Linked DNA regions of Homo sapiens: region 1 is linked to region 2. The links come from fine-mapping of genetic effects on gene expression. A gene starts in region 2. The other region holds a variant in brackets. All regions are shown on one strand. Distances are from middle to middle.

Region 1 (10,395 bases), 27 kb after region 2:
CAGGCACTGGTAAGGTCCTGAGACTTTACAGACATGCCTACTCAGTAACTAAGTAATAATCTAGATGGTGACCTGACGTACATACACTCATGCCAGGAGGCCATCAAATTAAAATAATCACTATCATTCATGAAGTGTTTGTTCAGCACTGTTCTGAGTACTTTTTATGTGGCTGCCTTATTTAAACTCCTCATTTCTTTTTTTTTCTTTTTCAACTCAGACCTTAACCCAAAGGATAAAATCCTCATTTCAACCTATAAGATTGATTCTTTTGTTATTCCCATTTTACAAATGATGAAACTAAGCCTAATCAGGTTAAATAATTTGCCCCAAATCACTCAGCCAGTGAGTGGTAAAGCTGATAGTCTGGAAGGAGAGACCACCAGTTAGCCTCTGGGGCTTCTTGGAGGTGGTGACAACTGAGCTAGATCTTGACAGATAAGGAGATAAAAGAGTATCTTCCAGGCCAGGTGTGGTGGCTGGCTTATGCCTCTAGTCCCAGCACTTTGGGAGGCCCAAGCAGGTGGATTGCTTGAGGCCAAGAGTTCGAAATCAGCCTGACCAACATGGTGAAACCCCATCTCTGCTAAAAATACAAAACTAAGCTGAGCGTGGTGGTGCATGCCTATAACCCCAGCTACTCAGGAGGCTGAGGCACAAAAATCGCTTGAACCCAGGAGGCAGAGGTTGCCAGCGAGCTGGGATTGTGCCACTGCACTCCAGCCTGGGCAACAGAGTGAGACCCTGTCTCTTAAAAAAAAGTATCTTCTTCAGGCATAGATCAGCTGATTGTCAACAACAGAAACCCTAGAGCCATCATAAAGGACAAAATAAAGATTCTTCCAAGGATGGAAAGGTATCTCTGAGAACCGATAGGCAGGAAATAGAGTCACAGGAACCAGAAAAAGCCTGCAGGAGCCAGGCCCGCCACTTTCTCTGGACCTGCTGCTTCTCTTGCTTTGAGTGCCCTCTGCGTGCCTCCTTCCCTTTTCTCACCTTTACCTCCGCATGGAAGTGATTTCTCTGCATGGCCCCTCCACTCAAGAGCCCAGCAGAGATTGACAAGTTTTCCAGTTTCAAACCTAAAAGATGCCTGGAAGAGAAAAGCTGGCCAGCTTAGGTCCAGCGTGTGTGTACCACTGGTTTGTTCATCTGTGCCCAGGGGCGTAGGTTACATGCCCCACTCATCAAGAGCAGTAGAACAAGGACATTGACTGGTGACTGACATTTCCTCTGATGAGACAGGCAGCATTTCTACTAAGAGTAGCAAATGTGAAGGCACAGATAGGAATCATGAAACGGGGCGAGGAAAGAGAAGGCAGCCAGCTATGGGGGACCATGGAGTGTCTAAAGAAGAGTGGTGAGGCCGGGCGCGGTGGCTCACGCCTGTAATCCCAGCACTTTGGGAGGCCAAGGCGGGCAGATCACTTGAGGTCAGGAGTTCAAGACCAGCCTGACCAAAATGGTGAAACCCCGTTTCTACTAAAAATACAAAAATTAGCCAGGCGTGGTGGCAGGCGCCTGTAATCCCAGCTACTTGGGAGGCTAGGGCAGGAGAATAGCTTGAACCTGGGAGGTGGAGGTTGCAATGAGCTGAGATTGCGCCATTGCACTCCAGCCTGGGTGACAGAGGGAGACTCAGCCTCAAAAAAAAAAAAAGAAAGAAAGAAAAAGAGCGGTGAGAGGAAAGACAGGCGAGCAGCTCAGGGTGGCTCCTTCGTGGCTTCACCACGGGAAGTTTGCATTGTTTTGCAAGGAGCAGTAGAGACATTGTTGAAGGTATTTGAGTGGATGAAGAGTGATTCGAGTTGTGCTTTAGGTAGATTAGCTTGGCAGCAGCAGGTGGGTGAATCGGAGTGAGGAGATGGTGAGATGGTCAAAGCGAGAGGGAAGGGCCTTTCCTTTCCGGGCCGTCCTGATGGAATTTAGGTGAGGGGTGGGTCACCCAACCTGCCTGTGGTCTGGTGGCTAATGTGAGCACCTCCCTCCCAGCCCTACCTTCACAGGCGGTAGTTTCCCTGTTTCTGGTCCGTGCTCCTCCAGCTGGGCCTTCTTCCCCTGACCTTGCTGATCCTTGGTGACCACCTCCGAATGTCAGAATCCACATCGTTAGGCTCACAATGTGGGCTGCTTTTGCCCCAGTGGGTCCAGTTGCCCCAACACGCTGTGTAGTGCTGACCAGTGTTTACGTGTGGGGTCGGCTCCATTCCTCGCTTTCTCCCGAAACAGATGTCAATGCCAATCGCATCATCCCGAGGAGACGTGGAGAGTGTCCGCCGCTGCCTGGCTCACAGCCTCTTCATGAGCACCGCCGAGCTTCAGCCAGATGGCACCTATGCCACCACGGACACCCACCAGCCAGTGGCCATCCACCCGTCGTCTGTCCTCTTCCACTGCAAGCCGGCCTGCGTCGTGTACACTGAGCTGCTCTACACCAACAAGTGCTACATGCGGGACCTCTGCGTCATAGATGCACAGTGGCTGTACGAGGCTGCCCCTGAGTACTTTAGGAGGAAGCTGAGAACCGCCAGAAACTGAGCCGCCCCAGGATGCCGCCAGAATCACTGGTCCCTGGGAGCTTGGACTACAGTTGTCCTTACAGCAGGCTTCCAGGTTGGCGCTTAGAGAAGCCTTGGAATCAGCTGAAGGTGCCTGACTTCCAGGAGCGTGAAAGCATCTTTGCTCAACTCCTGGGACTGAACCATATAGACATGGACATATCATTTGTACCTGGAAACCTCAAAATTATGCTTTTGGTTCTTACTGGGTGACTTTGACTTAATTTAACACCTGAGCCTCAGTTTTCTCATCTGCCAAATGGGAGTAATAATAATAATCCTTATAAAATTGGGTTCATAAAGTTTAGAGAAAAGGAATGGAAAGTACCCAGAACTATGCCTGGAGCACGCACGACACACGTACAGTGAGTTGGGAGCCGTTAGGCTGAATGTTACTGCTTGCCATATGATGTGAAGTACAGCAATATCCCAAGTTCTTGTGACTGAGGGAGATTTTCTGGAAGGGCCACAGGAGGTTGCGGAGCTTGGATGTTGCCCTTAGTTCTTGTTTAATGTCTCTCTGAATGCAGTTTTAAAATAGAAAACAAAACTGACTTCTGTAGAAGTTTCCAGAGGGAGGTGCTGTTATCTCGTACCTCCTGGGATGGCGATCCCTACTGAACGCTTGTGTCTCAGGGTGGACCACTCTGTGTCTGTCTCCAAGCAGAGACCAGTAAAGGAGCCTCCTGGTCCTCAGTGCGTGACCCTGTCAGTGCTTTCAGGAGACATGTAAGCTTCCTGGGTGAAGGTTGATTTGTACCTTCTGAATCCTGTCACGTGTAGACATGGGAAACTGACCTATCAGTGTTTTGTGTGTGTAGGTGACTCCCACATACACAGTTGCCATTTTTCTCTCTAACTGGGCACCAGTGAACATGCGGGCATGAGGAGTGACTGTGTACCATTTCAGCTGTTTCTTTTCGGGCAGTCCCCTGGTCAGAGGGGGTGGGGGTGGGGGAGGGGAGAGGGGTACCTAGAACCCAGAGAACATTGGCTTATGCCAGATACCACACCACATCTGGGCTTACATTCTTGTATCTTTTTTGGTGTGTGGGCGGGGGGGGTGGGGGGCAGTTCAGTGAAGTCTAGAAGACCTGCTGGACAAATTCTAAAAGAGCTAGAGCTGTAACACTTATTCTTGCATCTTATTAATTTTCTATGATATTTTTTCCTTCTTCGTAGGGACTTGGGACAATCTGGCTTTGCTGCTTTCTAACTGCTAGGCACCTCTCTCTAACCCTCATTGTCAGAGGGAATTGGAGGATATCCACAGTCTGTTCCTGTTCTGATATTCTGAGCAGAGAAAAGGCACTAACGGTTCCTCTTAGCTATTTAATTATCAGAAGCAAGTAATCTTTCCCCAGATAATATTTTGCCCTAGAAGAAGCCGTGATTTAGCTCTTTTATTGTGCTTACTTGGTCCAAATACATCTGTGGGGTGTTTTGTCATTTCTTAATGAATGAATCATAGTTATAACCAGGGGCCAAGCTGCCCAAGAGGCTCTTCAGAGATCATGGATGCTCTCTTTCTGGAAGCTGTGGCCTGATGGAGCAGCCCCATTCCAGGGTCCCATCTGTCCGGAGTTGTGTATGTCAAGTCCGGCTCAGTCTTTATTTCCAACACTAGCCGTGGTCCTGTGCAGTCAAGCTCTCAGCTAGTGTTTAGGGCTGTCTGTCAGAAATGGTTATACGTGGGCAAAAGAAGATCTGACAGCTCCTATATACCTTATCTTACTGAATTCTTAAACTTTGAACCAGTTCTTCCACTTACTGACTTGTTACCACTGCTGACTTTCTGAAAAGTTTTCCAGTTTTT[G/TTTTG]TTTTTTGTTTTTTGTTTTCCAGTAGGGGATTAGAATGTTTAGTCCTACTTAGTAAGAAAAATATTGTATTTTTAATCATTCATAGTGCTGGTAAAAAAAAAAAAAAAAAAAAAAAAATTGGGGGGTGGCCGGGCGCAGTGGCTCACACCTGTAATCCCAGCACTTTGGGAGGCCAAGGCGGGCGGATCACCTCATGCCTGTAATCCCAGCATTGGGATGGGAGGCTGAGGTGGGTGGATTGCTTGAGAAGTTCAAGACCAGCCTGGCCAACATGGCAAAACCCCGTCTCTACTAAAAATAGAAAACTTAGCTGGGCATGGTGGCACACGCCTGTAATCCCAGCTACCGGGGAGGCTGAGGCACAAGAATTGCTTGAACTTGGGAGGCAGAGTTTGTAGTGAGCCAAGATCACGCCACTGCATTCCAGCCTGGCCGACAGTGTGAGACGGTCTCAGAAAAAAAAAGAAAGAAAGAAAGAAAAAGAAAAAACTTGGGGTAATTTATGTCCAGCTTAAGTACCTGAACAGTTTCCGGAAATGTATATTTTTTTTCTGAGAGGCAAAGGATGTAAACAGCTTCTAAGTAGCTTTAATGTTTCTGTACAGAAATAAGTTTATCCCTGTAACATTGTGGTAGAGTTTTAATACAGTATTTAGTTTTTTATTGGGCTTTTTTAAAAAGTTAACTTTTAACATAGCTGCTCAGGGATTAAATCAGATTGGAAAACCCATTCTGACTCCACATACTGCTACAAAGAAATACATCGTTGTTTATATTGAGCTGCAGGAGATAGTACACTTTAAACTTAAGAAAGTTAAATGTTTCACAATAACATTGCAATATAATCTTCAGCTACTCTCTTTCCATTGGTAAAATCTCTGATGGTGTGATAACTCTTTGCCAACCTACGAAACCCATATCTGGAAGAATCACCAGCTCCCGTGAGCAGCTTCATGTAAATAGATGCACTCCAAGCAGATTGCATGCCTCAGGTGTTTGTCTTCTAGTAATCATGGAGTGTGCAACACCCAGAGTAACACTACAAGGGGCAGGACTGCAAACAGCAGGTCCTGGCTAAAAACCCTTAATGCTGCATTGCTGCCAGTTGTAAAGAGATGCCTGAATGGAGGCAAGTTCTGCCCTGTGGGTGAAACTGATGATGTACTGTACTGTCATATATAAATCCACTAAATCCAGCTACCAGGAACTGCCTGGAACTGTGGCCATGCATTTTTTTTTTTCTTTAAAGACCAGTGTGATAGTAGGCCATGCATCTGAGATACGATATTCCTTGGTAACTAGAGGGAGAAAAAAAAATCAAGTAGGTTCAGGCTTATGTTGTATTTTGAGAGTCTGGTTTTATTTGAACAGAAATAACTCTACAGAAAGCTCTTGTAAATAATGCTCAAATTTGCACCCGACGATCAAATCCATTAAAAATGAATCTTGTATATGATGTGTGTGGCTTGTTTCTTGCATCTCTTTTCCATTATTCATAGAAAATTATTTAGAAAATATTAAGTGTTAGTCTTACCATGAGTTAGTAAGACATACCTTCTTAGTAGCTTATATGTCCTGTATATCCTGGGAAGGTAGGATTGTTGATTTTTAATAAATCTGAACCCTGTCTTTGGGTTATATTAATTTACTGGAGAAACTCACAGAACTCAGGGAAACACATTTACCGGTTTCATACAAAAGATATGACCAAGGATACAGATAAGGAGATGAGCAGGGTGGGGAATGGGGAAGAAGCTCCCAGCCTCCATGCCGTCCCTGGACCACCACCCTCCAGGAACCTCCATGTATTTAGCTATCAGAGGCTCTCCAAACCCTGTCCTCGGGTTTTTATGGAAGCCTCTGGACTTATCTAAATGATATAAGCTGGCTTCTTGTCCCCAGAAAAATGATGTTCCATTAGAACTTGGATGCAAGGTTGGAGGTGCAGAGAGGGAAGGTCACAAAAATTAATCATGGATCCTGCCCTTGAGGATGTCACAGTCTGGTTGGGTTTAACCTGGTTAAAGCAGCAACGCTAGGAGGTTCCTGTTGAAAAGAGAATGAAGCATATGGGCTGGGTGCGCACAAGCATGAGTTCCGAGCCGGTGGAAAAAAAGGTTCTAGAAGGCCTCTTTCAGGAAAACCCTCAGACTTTCCTTTGCTCTCACAACACAACAATCAACACAGAAGACTTATGTGGCCAAAGGTTTGGGTTTTTCCCCTCCACACTAAGCAGCAGACACCAGCTGGGTGTCCTCCAATTCAATCCCAACAGTATCTACCTGGAGATAGTGTCAGATCCCATAGGTTGAGGGCTCAGTCCCCAAGACCGCCCCCACCTTCAGACAGCAATGGCAAGTCTGGGCCTCTGAAACTTCCGACCAACCCGCTTCAAGTTGGGGTTCCCACGACCCCCCTCTTTGGATTATGTTAACTCACTGGAGCAGTTCACAGAACTCAGGGAAACACATTCACCGGTTTCATATAAAGGATATGACCAAGGATACAGATGAGATGAGCAGGGTGGGGAATGGGGAAGAAGCTCCGAGGTTCCTTGCCTACCCTGGGCCACCACCCTCCAGGAACCTCTACGTATTCAGCTGTCAGAGGCTCTGCAAACCCTCTCCTCTTGGGTTTTTATGGAAGCTTCTGGACATCAGCATCCCTTCCCCCAGGGTATATGGTGGGACCTTCTCTGGGAAGGGACTTAAGACCCATAATCAGAAATGTGGAAGGAGATTAGAGTCCTGCTTTGGGGCAGGTAAAAGGAGGGCAGGAGAAGGGGAGAGTCTGTTTCCTGAGGCCTAACACACCCAACATTATCACAGAACATTGTAACAAGGGCTATAGGAGTTACGACCCAGGAACTGTGGATGAAAACCAATACATATATATATCATAACACCACAGCCTCCTAGAGGAAAGTGACCGTGGAAGGGTCTGGTGAGAGCTGGCGGGAGACAAGAGTGCATTCCACGCAGCCCAAAAGCCTTGCGTGCTTTGAGAACAGCAGGTGGAAAGTGGGTAAGCGGCCACTAGAGGGAATTAAACAGCTTCGGACAGCGGACTCGGCAGCGCAGCAAGAAAGCTCCGGAATCCGGATTCGAGGCTTCCCGGGCTGCACCGGAGTCTCCAGCAGAGGGCGCGATTCCGCCCGCTGGCCTTAGGTCGTCAGAGCGCCGGCGCGGGAAGCGCTTCCGGGCAGGGGCGGGGCTTCCGGCGGCGCCTCAGGTCGCGGGGCGCCTAGGCCTGGGTTGTCCTTTGCATCTGCACGTGTTCGCAGTCGTTTCCGCGATGCTGCCTCTGCTGCGCTGCGTGCCCCGTGTGCTGGGCTCCTCCGTCGCCGGCCTCCGCGCTGCCGCGCCCGCCTCGCCTTTCCGGCAGCTCCTGCAGCCGGCACCCCGGCTGTGCACCCGGCCCTTCGGGCTGCTCAGCGTGCGCGCAGGTTCCGAGCGGCGGCCGGGCCTCCTGCGGCCTCGCGGACCCTGCGCCTGTGGCTGTGGCTGCGGCTCGCTGCACACCGACGGTGAGGTTTAGCGGGCCGGGGGTGTGGTTTGCGTTCAACAGAGGGAAAACGTAGACCAGGAATAGGGCCTGCAACCGACCTCTGAGGTCTGGGACATTTTTCCATTGATTGGCAACCAGCGGGCTAAACCCACGTATGATCATATTTCCCCCACCTCCCCTATCCAGCAGTTTCGTTTTCTTTTGGTAGGGGGTGAATAAAATTAAATACTAGGGTACCTTTTTCCTTAGTCTTATTCTATCGAAAGTGGACCTTTGGGAAGGCCCATGGTCGTGGTTGAAAATAGCATAGTTATATCGTTTGGCAAGTGGAAGAGGATTGGAAATTCTCCTGGTTTATAGCGGAAAGTGGTAATGCGTTCATTGTTGGAAATCACTTTTCCAGAATCAGGCTCAGCTTCCTACTACTATTATGGTATTTTTACCGATAAGGAAACAGGCTTCTAGAGTAACCGTAATAGCAGAGAGATTAGAAACAGTCCAGGTTTCTGGCTGCAATAACCTGGGTAATAGTTTTATGTTTTAGACTAACTGGCTTTCCTTTTTATGTATCTGGATTTCTTTTCTAGGAGACAAAGCTTTTGTTGATTTCCTGAGTGATGAAATTAAGGAGGAAAGAAAAATTCAGAAGCATAAAACCCTCCCTAAGATGTCTGGAGGTTGGGAGCTGGAACTGAATGGGACAGAAGCGAAATTAGTGCGGAAAGTTGCCGGGGAAAAGTAAGTACTGGTCTGGGGATCCCAGGGCAGCAACTCCCTTAACCTTGCAGGACCCATCCTGGGTCATCCCCAGAAGAGCCTTGAGTTCAGGTGTGGATACTTTGATAAATGGGTTTCAAGAGAGTGAAGGATTCATTTGGACAACTTCGTAAGCCCCAGGCAGTCCATTCACCGAACACAAATTTGCTGTGGGCTGGTTACTAAGGAGACAAAAATGTAGTGCAAAAAAGTACTGGCAGAATCAGTTTGATCTCTGATTTACAGCCCTGATAAAATAGGACACTGCTCTCTAATGTTTAGTATGGGTGAAAATGAAAAATATGTAACTTCTATGTAACAGGATGGGGTTACACTGTAGTAAGGGCTGCCATCAGAGGTGGGGAGTTTGTGACCTAAGTCAGCTCCCCCATCATCTCCTAAACTGTTAAAGTGTTTACACTTTTCTGCATTATAGTCATCCATAATCTCATTACACAGATAAACATTTGGCATCTTCCAGGTTTTTAAATTGAGCCTGGGCGCGGTGGCTCACACCCATAATCCCAGCACTTTGGGACGGGCAGATCATGAGGTCAGGAGAAAATCCTGGCTAACACTAAAACCCTGGCTCTAGTAAAAATTAACCGGGTATGGTGGCACGTGCCTGTAGTCCCAGCTACTCGGGAGGCTGAGGCAGGGGAATCGCTTGAACCTGGGAGGTGGAGGTTGCAGTGAGTCGAGATCGCGCCACCGCGCTCCAGCCTGGGCAACAGAGCAAGACGCCATCTCAATAATAAATAAATAAATTGAATTTCCTTCATAATTGACCTTATGATGTGTATGTAATTTTTTTAAATCACAGCTTTTATGAGATTTAATTGAGATGGCATACGATTTACCCATTTATTGAAGTTTATTAAATTAAGTGGTTCTTAGTCCTCGCAGAATTATGCATCAGTTATCACTACCTAATTCTAGAACACTGTTGTCATCCCCAAACAATACCTATTAGCAGTCACTCATTATTCCTCCCTGTAGCCACCCCAGGTAATCACTAAGCTACTTTCTCTATGGGATTGCCTCTTTTGGACATTTCATATAAATGGAGTCATACAATTTGTAGCTTCCCCCCCCAACCCCACGGAGTCTTGCTCTGTCACCCAGGATGGAGTGCAGTGGTGCGATCTTGGCTCACTGCAACCTCTGCCTCCCAGGTTCTGACAATTCTCCTGCCTCAGCCTCCTTAGCTGGGATTACAGGCGTGCGTCCGGTTAATTTTTGTATTTTTAGTAGAGACAGGGTTTCACCGTGTTGGCCAGGCTGGTCTCAAAGTCCTGACCTCGTGATCCGCCCGCCTTGGCCTCCCAAAGTGCTGGGATTTCAGGTGTGAGCCACCCTGCCCACCCTATTTACCTTTTTAATTGTTGGGTTGTAAAAGTTAAGTTTTTCTGGGTACAACTATCTTATCAAATTAATGATTTGTAAGTACTGTTTCCCATCTTGTGGGTTTCCTTTTCACTTTCTTGGTAATGTCCTCTGACACAAAAGTTTTTAATTTTGAGGAAGTTCAGTTTACCTATTTTTTTGGTCGCTTGTGCTTTTTTATTTATTTTTTACTTTGCTTCTAATTCACCAAGTGCAACTTGTGCTTTTTTAGTGTCACGTCTAAGAAACCACTGCCTAACCCAAGGTTGTGAAGATGTATGCCTTAATTTTTTCAAAGTTTTCTAGTTTTAGCTCTTAGTTTAGGTCTGTGATTCATTTTGAATATGGTGTGAAGTAGGGTCCTGATTCTC
Region 2 (10,395 bases):
TTTCTTTTATTTTTAAAAAAGTTTTAATTAAAAATTTTTTTTTAAATACAGATGGGGTCTCACTGTGTTGCCCAGGCTGGTCTTGAACTCCTGGACTCAAGCAATCCTCCCACCTCAGCCTCCCAAAGTGCTAGGATGACAGGCATGAGCCACCATGCCCAGCCATTTTTTTTTTTTTTGCCTTTTTTGTTTTGTTTTGTTTTTTGTTTTTTTAATTAAAAAAAAAAAATAGAGACAGGGTCTCAGATTTTCATTAGATTTGGAAACCAAGTTAGAATGTTGACTTTGGAGCCAGACGAACAGATACCAGTTAGCTAGGCATATGTTCTTCCAGGGTCTTTGGCTAGTTAACATTAGTCATTTGCTTCGTGAAAATTCAAGAACCTTTTCAGAGCCAAGTACCTGGATTACCTTCCCAATCAGGTAGAAATTAGACAGGGTCCACAGAAGTAGACACTTAATGCTGTGGTTCAATAAATACTTCCCCTAAATATTAAGTCTTCCCTGAGTCTCAGCAGGTTTGCATTCACACTGCTTAAGTAACTTCCAGAACCTGGAAGAGTCGAAAGAGCACCCCTAGGAAAGAGATGATTCCAAACAGCTTTCATTAACGGCATGTAGGCACAGGTCCCTTTCCCAAAAGTGGATTGTTAGTAGTAGTTCATTCAACCTTTGTTAAGGGGTAGCTTTCCAGAATGTGACATTGTCCTCAGAAAGATAGACATAGGCTTAAACATAATGGACATCCTAAATAGGAATTTTCAGATTGTTTTTGAAGTGAAAAGTGTTTTAATGTCTTTAAATGGAATTGCATAACTAATGGTATTTAAGTATTTTACATGTTGCTAATAACTTTGAATATGATTGTTGCAATTTTATGGAACCTGGGTCTATGGGACTGCTTTTTAAGCAGTTTAAAAAAGGTTTTCAAAGTTTAAAAGCCAATCTTAGCATGTATAATCCTTATGGGATTCTTAAGTTTTATCCTATCTTGTTTTTGCTCAAGAACGCTTTATCAGTGACGTTTGTTAGAATTTTGTTTTTTGTTTTTTTTTTTTAAATTGTTTTTGGGCTAGAAATGAGTTTCTCTAGTTTTATTTGTTCTCCCTGAGTTGGAGTTATGCAATGAATGGCATTTTTGTGGTAAAATACTAATCCTAAAATCTGTTAACTCACTGTTCATTTAAGTAGGGAATATCTGTATACATTAATGACTAGGTAAAACAGGAAATACATTTTGAATATACAGCCTAAAGGCAGGCAGTTACAGGGTTTTTGATTTCTCCGATTTTATAGGGTGCAAGTTCCCAGTGGCAGGATGCCCTGCTGTGTGACTGACTACACTGTGTCCTGAGCAGTGGTAATTTCAATCACCTCTCATCAGTTTGGCCAGCCCTACAACCACCATTCCTAGCCCTGTGTTGCTTGACAGGATACCTGTGCTTGAATGGACATAAGGAAAAGTCCTTACTTTCTCCCCAATTTACCTCTCAATCTTAGTTCTTCCAGAACACACTTCCCTTTCACAATGCAAATAAACTGAAAGTGAGATTTGATACATGGAATTTTGAGACCAACCAACTAACCTTACACATAATTTGAGGGATTCCTGGATTCTTCTAGTGATACTGAAAAGCACACTTGACTAAAGCATAGTGTTTTTTGTTTGTTATGGAAATACGGTATACGTTCATTTAAAAATAAATGGACATACAAATTGCATCTCCTTAGGAGATACATTTTATATACATTTCGGTGCGTTTTTTTCCAGTATGGATTTCTATTTGTTTCTCTCTTCCTCTTGTTTTTTCTGTGTCACTCTTGTATGTCCTCATATCTTTCATACCTCTTGTGTAGTCTCTAGAAGCAGAACACCTAAGTCCTGGGTCTGGATAATGAAACCCTCAGTCTCTGGGGCCTCTGAAAATAAGGAAGCATTGGAGCTATTGCCATGTTGAGTAATGGGCTTCCTAGAACTATTGTCATCTATCCTGCCAGTGTTTTATGTTGTAGCTGTTTTTCTTTGACAGGTGAGTTCCAGCTATGTTGTTAGTCATGATCCTGCCATTATTTTCTGTGTTCTGTAGGATGTCTCCAGGCTACTTAAACATATTTTATGAGTTTGCAATAAAATTGTTGAATCTTGTATGATCAAGTCACTCCTCTGCTCAGAAATCCACAGTGACTTCTTAGTAAGCCCCTACATTATATGCATACTTGTTTTTTTCTTAACTTTACTCCCACTTCTACCTAACAGGGACCTCAACTTAAGTCTCTTCAGTTCTTCAAGGCCTGGCCTTGTTCCTGATTCCTCAAAAAATCTTGACTCTAAGGCCTATTTTATTGTCTGTCTCTGAATCCCTATAAAGCTTCAAGTCTGTATGACATTCTTAACGCCAAATTATATATTGTCTTGTACTGTTCCTAGCTGGTACATGTATATTAGTCTTGTCTCCCTCATGAGAATGTAAGCTCCTTAAGGGCAGGGACCATGTCTTAATTTTTGTATCCACCACAGTGCCTAGCACAGTGCTTGGCACATGGGTGCTGAATAAATACCTTTGTTTATTGATCAGCAAAGTATTATCTGGTATTTTTAATTATAGAGGGATTAAAGTGTATGCATGCAAGCTTGAGCCTAGTTGCTGAAGCTTGTGGTTGTCTCTGAAAGTGGGATAGAGGGAAACTGAACATGATCAAGGGCAGTAATTTGGTGGTCGGAAAAGCAAAGGTGACCACCAGCTGTTATGGTCGTGATCAGACCAGTTAAGTCCACAGACCATCCCAGACAAGTTAAAAATGAAATGTGTCTGACACTTCGTCGTTTGAAGGAAGAACCAGGATATTCTCTGAATAGTTATTAGCTTGTCAGTATCTACATATGAAAGCTGGTGAACCCCAAGAGACTTCTTCAGGAGAAACAGCAGATTTCAGTCTACCAATGGGAGAAATGTGAGCAGCATGGCTTGATGCATATATAGGACTTAATTTTTCCACTCTTTGGTCCTCTTAGCTTTGAGGCTATAGAATAGCTGGATCATTAGGCCAGAGATTATGGATGAGTTACCTACAGATTTGTTACCTACCTATGTGCTTTGTTTTGACAGTACTTTTTTTTTTTTTAAGTTTAAACCTGTATTTAACATTGACAGATAAAAATCTTCACTTTTGGCTTTTCTTGAGAAAATTGGAAGATCTGGCAATAATAGGTCTACATGACAGCCATTGCCTAGAAATGATTAGGGGCTGCATGTAGAGGTGGAATGTGCTCCATCAAGAAATAAGTCCACCCATTTACATTACCTAAATTATTGTAATCATTTGGAACATCGGACTCCTACCTTAAGTTACTCTGGAAAGCACACTGGGAAAAAGGACTGGGATGTCTTTACTCAAAGTCCATAATTTGAGAGTTAACATTTATTATCCCTTGTAGTTTTGGGTTGCCTTTCTAAATATTTCAGGGTAGGAAGTGAAAATTTGTCAGTTTATTCTTAAACACAAATCTGCTGCTGGTTCAACGTGCACATTTTCAGTAATGCCTGGTCACCAAACTGTCAGCAACTAGAGGAAAATTATCTCCGACCTGGAGCAAAGGGGAGGTTTTTTGTTTTTAGACTAGCTCTCTCACGAATCACGGGAAGGGAGATATTTAACAGGGCGAGTTTCATGGAAACGAGCTTCAGAAGATACCCTTCACATGAGCTGAAGCTTACGGTGTATTCTCTGGAAATCACATTTCCTGTAAGAGCAAACAGCTACTTGGCATTCTCCGTGGTAAATTAGCAAATCATCTAAGAACTTTTAGGAGGGTAAGGAAGAACTAGTTATAATCCTACTTTTTTCTGCTGCAGTTCTGAATCTTCACTGAAGTGTCTGTGATGGGGTTGCACAGCCATGTAGAGAACTTGAGAGTCTGGCTGGAATGGTTGGGGGAAAGGAAAGATAAAAGACAATTTTAATTTCATTGAACTCCCTCCTTTCTCTGCTTGTATTACTGGAGGCGACCACATCCGTTGGAGGAGTCATTTTCTGAGTTAAATTCATGTATATCAGAATTGGTTTTCCTTTCTGTAACACAAGATGATCACAAAATTATGATTTGGGGACATCTGAATGACTAAGATGACTCAATTTCTTAATCTGTAAATTAGAGATAATCTAATAACCAGTATATACCACATAACTTATAAGTTGTTTAGAGGATTAGACAATGCACGTTTGCGCTTCTCATTGATTTTACAGAATTAAGTACTTTCCTTGAAGAGTGACTGTTATTTGGACAGAGAAGGGGAAAACGCGGGTTTACTGAAAAGAAGTAATGCTACTAGAACAAAACAATGGGCGGGGCGCGGTGGCTCACGCCTATAATCCCAGCACTTTGGGAGGCCGAGGCAGGCGGATCACCTGAGGTCGGGAGTTCAAGACCAGCCTGACCAACATGGAGAAACCCTGTCTCTACTAAAAATACAAAATTAGACGGGCCCCGGTGGCGCACGCCTGTAACCCCAGCTACTTGGGAGGCTGAGGCAGGAGAATCGCTTGAACCCAGGAGGCGGAGGTTGCAGTGTGAGCCGAGATCGCGCCATTGCACTCCAGCCTGGGCAACAAGAGCGAAACTCCATCTCAAAAAAAAAAAATAAAACAATGAGAAAAACCTCGTTAACCAAGACTACAGTCCCACGGAACCTTACATCCTGTGTTTCCCGGTTGTAGCTCCGGGCCTTTTCCTGGTTGTACCTCAGGCCCTGCTTTTCCCACCCCCAGGAAGTGAAAGCCTTCCCAAGCCCCCAAGGCATGCTGGGAGATGCAGTCCCTTTTTCTAAAGACTGGGGCGGCCGTGAGGTCATCGGTGGTCGCCGGGAGCCGCCAGCACGTGGCGGCGAGGAAGGGGCGGTGTGCTCCTGTTGTCTGCACCTGAGAGGGGGCAGGAGCTCTCGGCGCTTGCGCCTCCCGCCGCGGTGCCCTCCCGACATGCCGGAGGAGGCGGGCTTCCCGCCGGCCAAGAGATTCCGGCCAGGCTCTGGACCTCCGAGCCGCGCTGGGTCCTTCCCTCCCGGGAGGCAAGTGGTGATGCTGCTGACTGCGGGCAGCGGCGGCAGAGGAGGAGGAGGAGGCCGGAGGCAGCAGCCGCCCCTGGCCCAGCCCTCGGCCAGTCCCTACCCTGAAGCTGTGGAGCTGCAGCGCCGGAGTCTGCCCATCTTCCAAGCGCGGGGGCAACTGTTGGCCCAGCTCCGAAACCTGGACAACGCGGTCCTCATCGGTGAGTGGCCGCGCCGGCGGGCTCTTCCTTGCACTTCGTCCGTGGCTTAGCTAGAGCAGTTTTTCTTACATGCCTCTCAATCCCTTTCGTTCGTGGCTTCAACAAACCTGAATACCTTTTCTGGGCCAGACCTGGAGAGGGGCCTCGAAGAAGAGTCCGGCAGCCCTGCCCTGGAGGCGCTGGACAGCCCGGTGAGAGTGACCAACGTGTGTAGGCAAAGACTCACCTTCCGCGTAAAAGGGTAGAGAAACGTACCGGGGGCTTGCGGATCTTAGAAGAGTGGATCTGACCCGGTTTGTGAGGAGGCGGCTGGGGAGGTCGTGTGGGAGGGAGGGCATTCTAGGCAGGGGGGAAAGCCCGTTTGAGAGATGGGAACCTGAACACATTCCGGTCGAAAGGGAAGGTGTAGTTTCTGGTGCATGAAAAGAGGCAGAGTTGTGGGGCAGGGACTGATTTCATGGGGCTTATGATCCCCAACGTGTTAGAGGAGATACTGAAGGACGGAAAGGATGAGCAGCCAAAGAGAGGAAGGAGACCCATGAGTGCTGCTAGTCAAAGGAATAGAGAGTGAGCAGATGCAGCAGTCAAGTCCGGTTATACTGGACTTGGATGTGATGCCCACTGGATTTGGATGTGAGCTATTTGTAAGAGTTAAAGAAAAAGGAAAGAAACACGAAACGCGGCTGGCAGTTAAAGACAGCTTTTCTTTAGTTAAAACCTGAGAGGCGCTCCTGGCCGATTTCGGTCAGGAGCCCTTTCTCTTACAGACTAAGAGTATATATTGGTGTTAGGGTGAGGGGGCTTATCACAAGCTTGGAATGTTTATATGTGTGGAGAAGTTTTTGGCAGGGTTGGACTCTTTGGGAGCAGGGGATGTTATCTTGGGGCAGACATTTTTCCGGCCCGAGGGGGTTTATCTCCCGGCTGGCATATTCCCGGCTGGCATATTCCCGGCCAGAGTGGGGTTATCCCTTAACATGTCTCTGGTCGGGGAGGAGTTTGGAATGTTTCTGGCTGGAGATGTTATTTGTGGTTTATGGTCGTGCTGACCTTAGCCATTAGGCTGATACCTTTTGGATTTAGGCGGTTTTTTATTAAGGTGAACTTTTGAATGAGGGGCTTGTCCAAGATGGTGATGTTCCTGCTTTGTCAATCCAGACCCTATAGTTATAAAAAGGAGGAGGGACGGCATGTTCTTTCTGGCTACTTCCTGCAACGAGGGGATGGAGAGTTTCCTGGTCTCGGGTTGACTAGGAGCAATGCCGTCTGTAGATGTTTTTGGGTAGTTGTTTGTGAAATTGCCATGATCCTGTCAGTTAAAAATCTTTGAAAAAGATTAATTAGGCAGGGTAAGAACATTAGTTCCAGGCATATTATTAGGAGAGGGCCCAGGAATGGGATGACCCATGCTATGATTTTGTTTTCAAACCAAGAGTCCATTTGGTGGTTTTGGTACTCCCTTAGCTTTTTAGCCTTTTCTTTACGTTTTTTAGCAGCGCTTTTTACTAGGCCCGATTGGTTGATATAGAAAGAGGCGTGAGCCACCGCACCTGGCCCCCTCAAAACAATTATTTAACCTTTTAACGTAGGTAAAAATGTGCATTCTTATCCCTCCTGATAATCTTTTTACCGAAAGTGTACTTTACTTTCCTTACACACCTTGCACATAAAGTGTCTCTTCAATAGTTTTAAATACATGTTACACTGTTAACTTTTAGCAACCTTTACCTTTGTTGAAAACCTTGGTAAGTTCGGGATTTTAATTATGTGCTAGGTGTACAGCCTAGGACTTAGACAGAAGTGCAGTTAAGGTCTGGCTTATTTCAGCATTTAGCTCCATGTGTCCTAGGTTTTACCTAGCTGCAAAGCAGGCAAGTTCTACAGCTAAGAGTTATGGTGACATTTTATAAAGCATTCAGGAGGCCTAATCACTTTTAAATTGTAAAACATTTCTTGCATACATTTCCTCTCATAAAATTTTTCATGACTTTCACAGACTATCTCTGACACTATTGATCGTGGATCCATCCCATCGAGAGCTATTTCAACAAAGCTGTGTGGGTAACAGCTGATTTGTCATTGAGCTGAGGGCTGAAAGCAGGGGGAAGAGGCTTCTGTTTTGAGGAAAAAGGAGGGAAGCTGAGAGAAACTTTATGGATGCTGCTCGATTTAGGATGGGGTTATGTGTGGATGAATCCACCCATCCTCATAAGTTGAAAATATCCTAAGTTGGAAATGCATTTAATATGCCCAGCCTACTTTCAGTGTGCTCGGAACATGTACATTAGCCTATGGTTGGGTGATATTATCTAACATGAAACCTATTTTATAATAAAGTCTTGAATATTTCATGCAATTTATTGAATACCATACTGAAAGTGACAGTTGTGTGGGTACTCAAAAGTACAGTTTCTACTGTACGATTTTGACTTTTGCTCCATCCTGAAGTCAAACAGTTCTAAGACAGGGACCATCTGTATTCAGAGGTTGAGGGGAAGAACTCAGTAGGGAGGGAGGCAGAAGATAGAATCGAGCTAACAGAGCAAAGATCAGGAGGCATGGGGGACGGGGGAACTTGGCCACAAGGGCTAGATGCAGGGCTGGTCTGGAAGAGGAGGAAGGCTAAGAGGCTGCAGGGCTAGAGAACGGATGTAAGGATGGTGCACTGCAGAAGGGCTTCTAGGGGCAGTTAGGGAGAGACCACATTTTAGAACCCCACTTCTGTGAGACAGGTTCAGGAGCCCTGCTCAGAATGGGAGTCACTGGGCTTCAAGTGGGCCCTTGGGGAGGATGGAGACGAGACAGGCTGCAAAAACAAGAAAAAAGATCGATGGCAGTAGTGGTGCCTAGGTGCATTTCGGCTACACTATAAACTCAGGTTTGCTTCTGCACAGCCAGATTATAGGTGGAACATCCCAAATTTGAAAATCCGAAGTCAAGAATGGGCTCCAAGGAGCATTTCCTTTGAGTGTCATATCAGATGCTCAAAAAGTTTTGGATTTGGGAGCATTTAGGACTTCAGATTTTCACATTTAAAATGCTCAGCCAGTAAGTATAATGCAAATATTACAAAACTTGAAAGAATCCAAAGTTCAAAACACTTCTGGTTCCAAGCATTTTGTATTTTACTTTAGCAACGCTCTGTTGCCCTGGTATAGGAGCATGAAAGATAGAGACATGGATCAAAGTTTGGGGTTTTGCCTAGTGGATTCAGCAGGAAGATTGCAGAATAATCAAATCCTTTGTCTGATTCTTATCTGGGTCAGGAAGGATGAGCAGTCAGAGGGGGCTGACAGACTGACAGGGAAAAAAACCCACAAATCATGGGACTGGAGGACTTTTTGAAGTCAGAGAGGCCTGGTGGTAGCTAGAGGGAGGGGAAGGAAGCGCAGGTTTACTGAGTTCTTTGCTCTAATCAGGCACTGTTAAAGGAATTCACACAGGGTAGGAAGTAACATTTACTGCGTGCTTATTGTATGCAAAATACTCAAGTACACGAGAGGGACATTCAGAGCACTGCCCTCTGGGAGCTTCCCTTCTGGTGTTGGAGGAGGACGGACACATTTAAACGCTTCTGTACAACACAGGATGGTCAGTGCTGGAAGAGAGATGAACAAGGCACTACGGAGCCCAGAGGAGGGCCACTGTGCAGCCAGGGGAGCGTGTTTGAGGCCTAACTCATCTTAGAGTTTGCGAGGCAGGCAGTGTGAGGGCAGGTGTTCTGCCCATAGTGTGGGCAGAGGCAGAGGGTTTGAAGGGAGGCAGCAGGCTGGGGAGTGGCCAGGAGTTGAAGGCAGCAGTGCATGAATGGATGTCTCTTCATGTCAGTCAGTATGCAGAAATCTATGTAACGGTTGTATTTTATTTTATATTTTAACTATGTAAATTACCTTTTGAACATTTATATTGTTTCCAATTTTTTTCTGTCAGGAGCAAAATTGAATAAAATCTCTTTGAAGCTGTATCTTTATACACATGTTTACTTATTTTGTTAGAATCAATTTCTGCAAGTAGAATTGTGGGTCAAGGGATATAAACATTTTAAAGATTTAAAAAACATAATTTGACCACCTGAGAAACAATACCAATTAACCAGCTAATTTCACCAGCAGTATACATACCTGAATGCCCATTCTCCTGAGGCTTTACCAACACAGGGTATTTTATCTTTTACTTCTGACTTTGAGCTGTTTGTTTGGTGAAATTTATGTCAATTTGCTTTTTGTTGTTGTTGTTTTTCTAAGACAGGGTGTCATTCCGTTGCCCATGCTGGAGTGTAGTGGTGTGATCATGGCTCACTGCAGCCTCAACCTCTCAGGCTCAAGCAATATGCCCACCTCAGCCTTCAGAGTAGCTGGGACCACAGGCGTGCACCACCACGTCCAACTAATGTTTGTATTTTTTGTAGAGACGGCATCTCCCTATGTTGCCCAGGAGCAACTCCTGGGCTCAAGTGATCCTCCTCCCTTGGCCTCCCCACGTGCTAGGATTACAGGCATGAGCCACTGTGCCCAGCCGATTTGCATTTCTTTTTTTATTTTTATTATTTTTTTTGAGACAGTGTCTCACACTATCTCCCAGGCTGGCATGCAGTGGCACAATCATGGCTTACTGTAACCTTGAACTCCTGGGCCTCATGATCCTTCTGTCTCAGCCTCCCTAGTAGCTGGGACTACAGGCACATGCAACCACACCAGGCTAATTGTTGTTGTTGTTGAGACGGGGTCTTGCTATGTTGCCCAGGCTGATTTTGAACTCCTGGGCTCAAGAGAGCCTCCTACCTCGGCCTCCCAAAGTGCTGAGATTATAGGTGCCAGCCCTGGTGCCGAGCCCCAGTTTGCATTTCAGTGAGCCTTTTTTTTTTTTCCCCCTCTCTCCTAGGGGAAACTGGCTCTGGGAAGACAACTCAGATCCCTCAGTACCTGTATGAAGGAGGGATCAGCCGCCAGGGCATCATTGCTGTGACCCAGCCTCGTCGAGTAGCTGCCATCTCTCTTGCTACTAGAGTCTCAGATGAGAAGAGAACTGAACTTGGGAAGCTGGTACCTGGTTCCTTCTTGACTATTAGTACTTCTTGACTCAACAGCTCTCTCCCCATGCCCACTGCCTTTTATTTTTCTAAACAAGACTCC

The links.
Region 1: its variant is fine-mapped to the expression of DHX33 in whole blood (INTERVAL, PIP above 0.99). The same link has a PIP of 0.9 or more in prefrontal cortex.

The regions. Positions count from the first base shown.
Region 1 is chr17:5,436,348-5,446,742 of GRCh38, reverse strand. C1QBP (complement C1q binding protein) reads left to right here and starts at 7,588. Exons shown (of 6, transcript NM_001212.4): 1 at 7,588-7,901; 2 at 8,470-8,620. The coding sequence starts at 7,670. DHX33 (DEAH-box helicase 33) reads left to right here. Exons shown (of 12, transcript NM_020162.4): 12 at 2,230-5,826. The coding sequence ends at 2,538. RefSeq lists an enhancer at 7,192-7,371 and silencers at 7,431-7,613, 7,592-7,761, 7,872-7,921. The variant G/TTTTG (reference allele first, on the strand shown) is at 4,375.
Region 2 is chr17:5,463,439-5,473,833 of GRCh38, reverse strand. It overlaps DHX33 (DEAH-box helicase 33), which reads left to right and starts at 4,852. Exons shown (of 12, transcript NM_020162.4): 1 at 4,852-5,263; 2 at 10,145-10,305. The coding sequence starts at 4,975. It overlaps DERL2 (derlin 2), which reads left to right. Exons shown (of 7, transcript NM_016041.5): 7 at 1-2,580. DHX33-DT (DHX33 divergent transcript) reads right to left here and starts at 4,742. Exons shown (of 3, transcript NR_135644.1): 1 at 4,695-4,742; 2 at 3,840-3,920; 3 at 3,474-3,742. RefSeq lists enhancers at 4,759-4,828, 5,209-5,428, 5,218-5,800.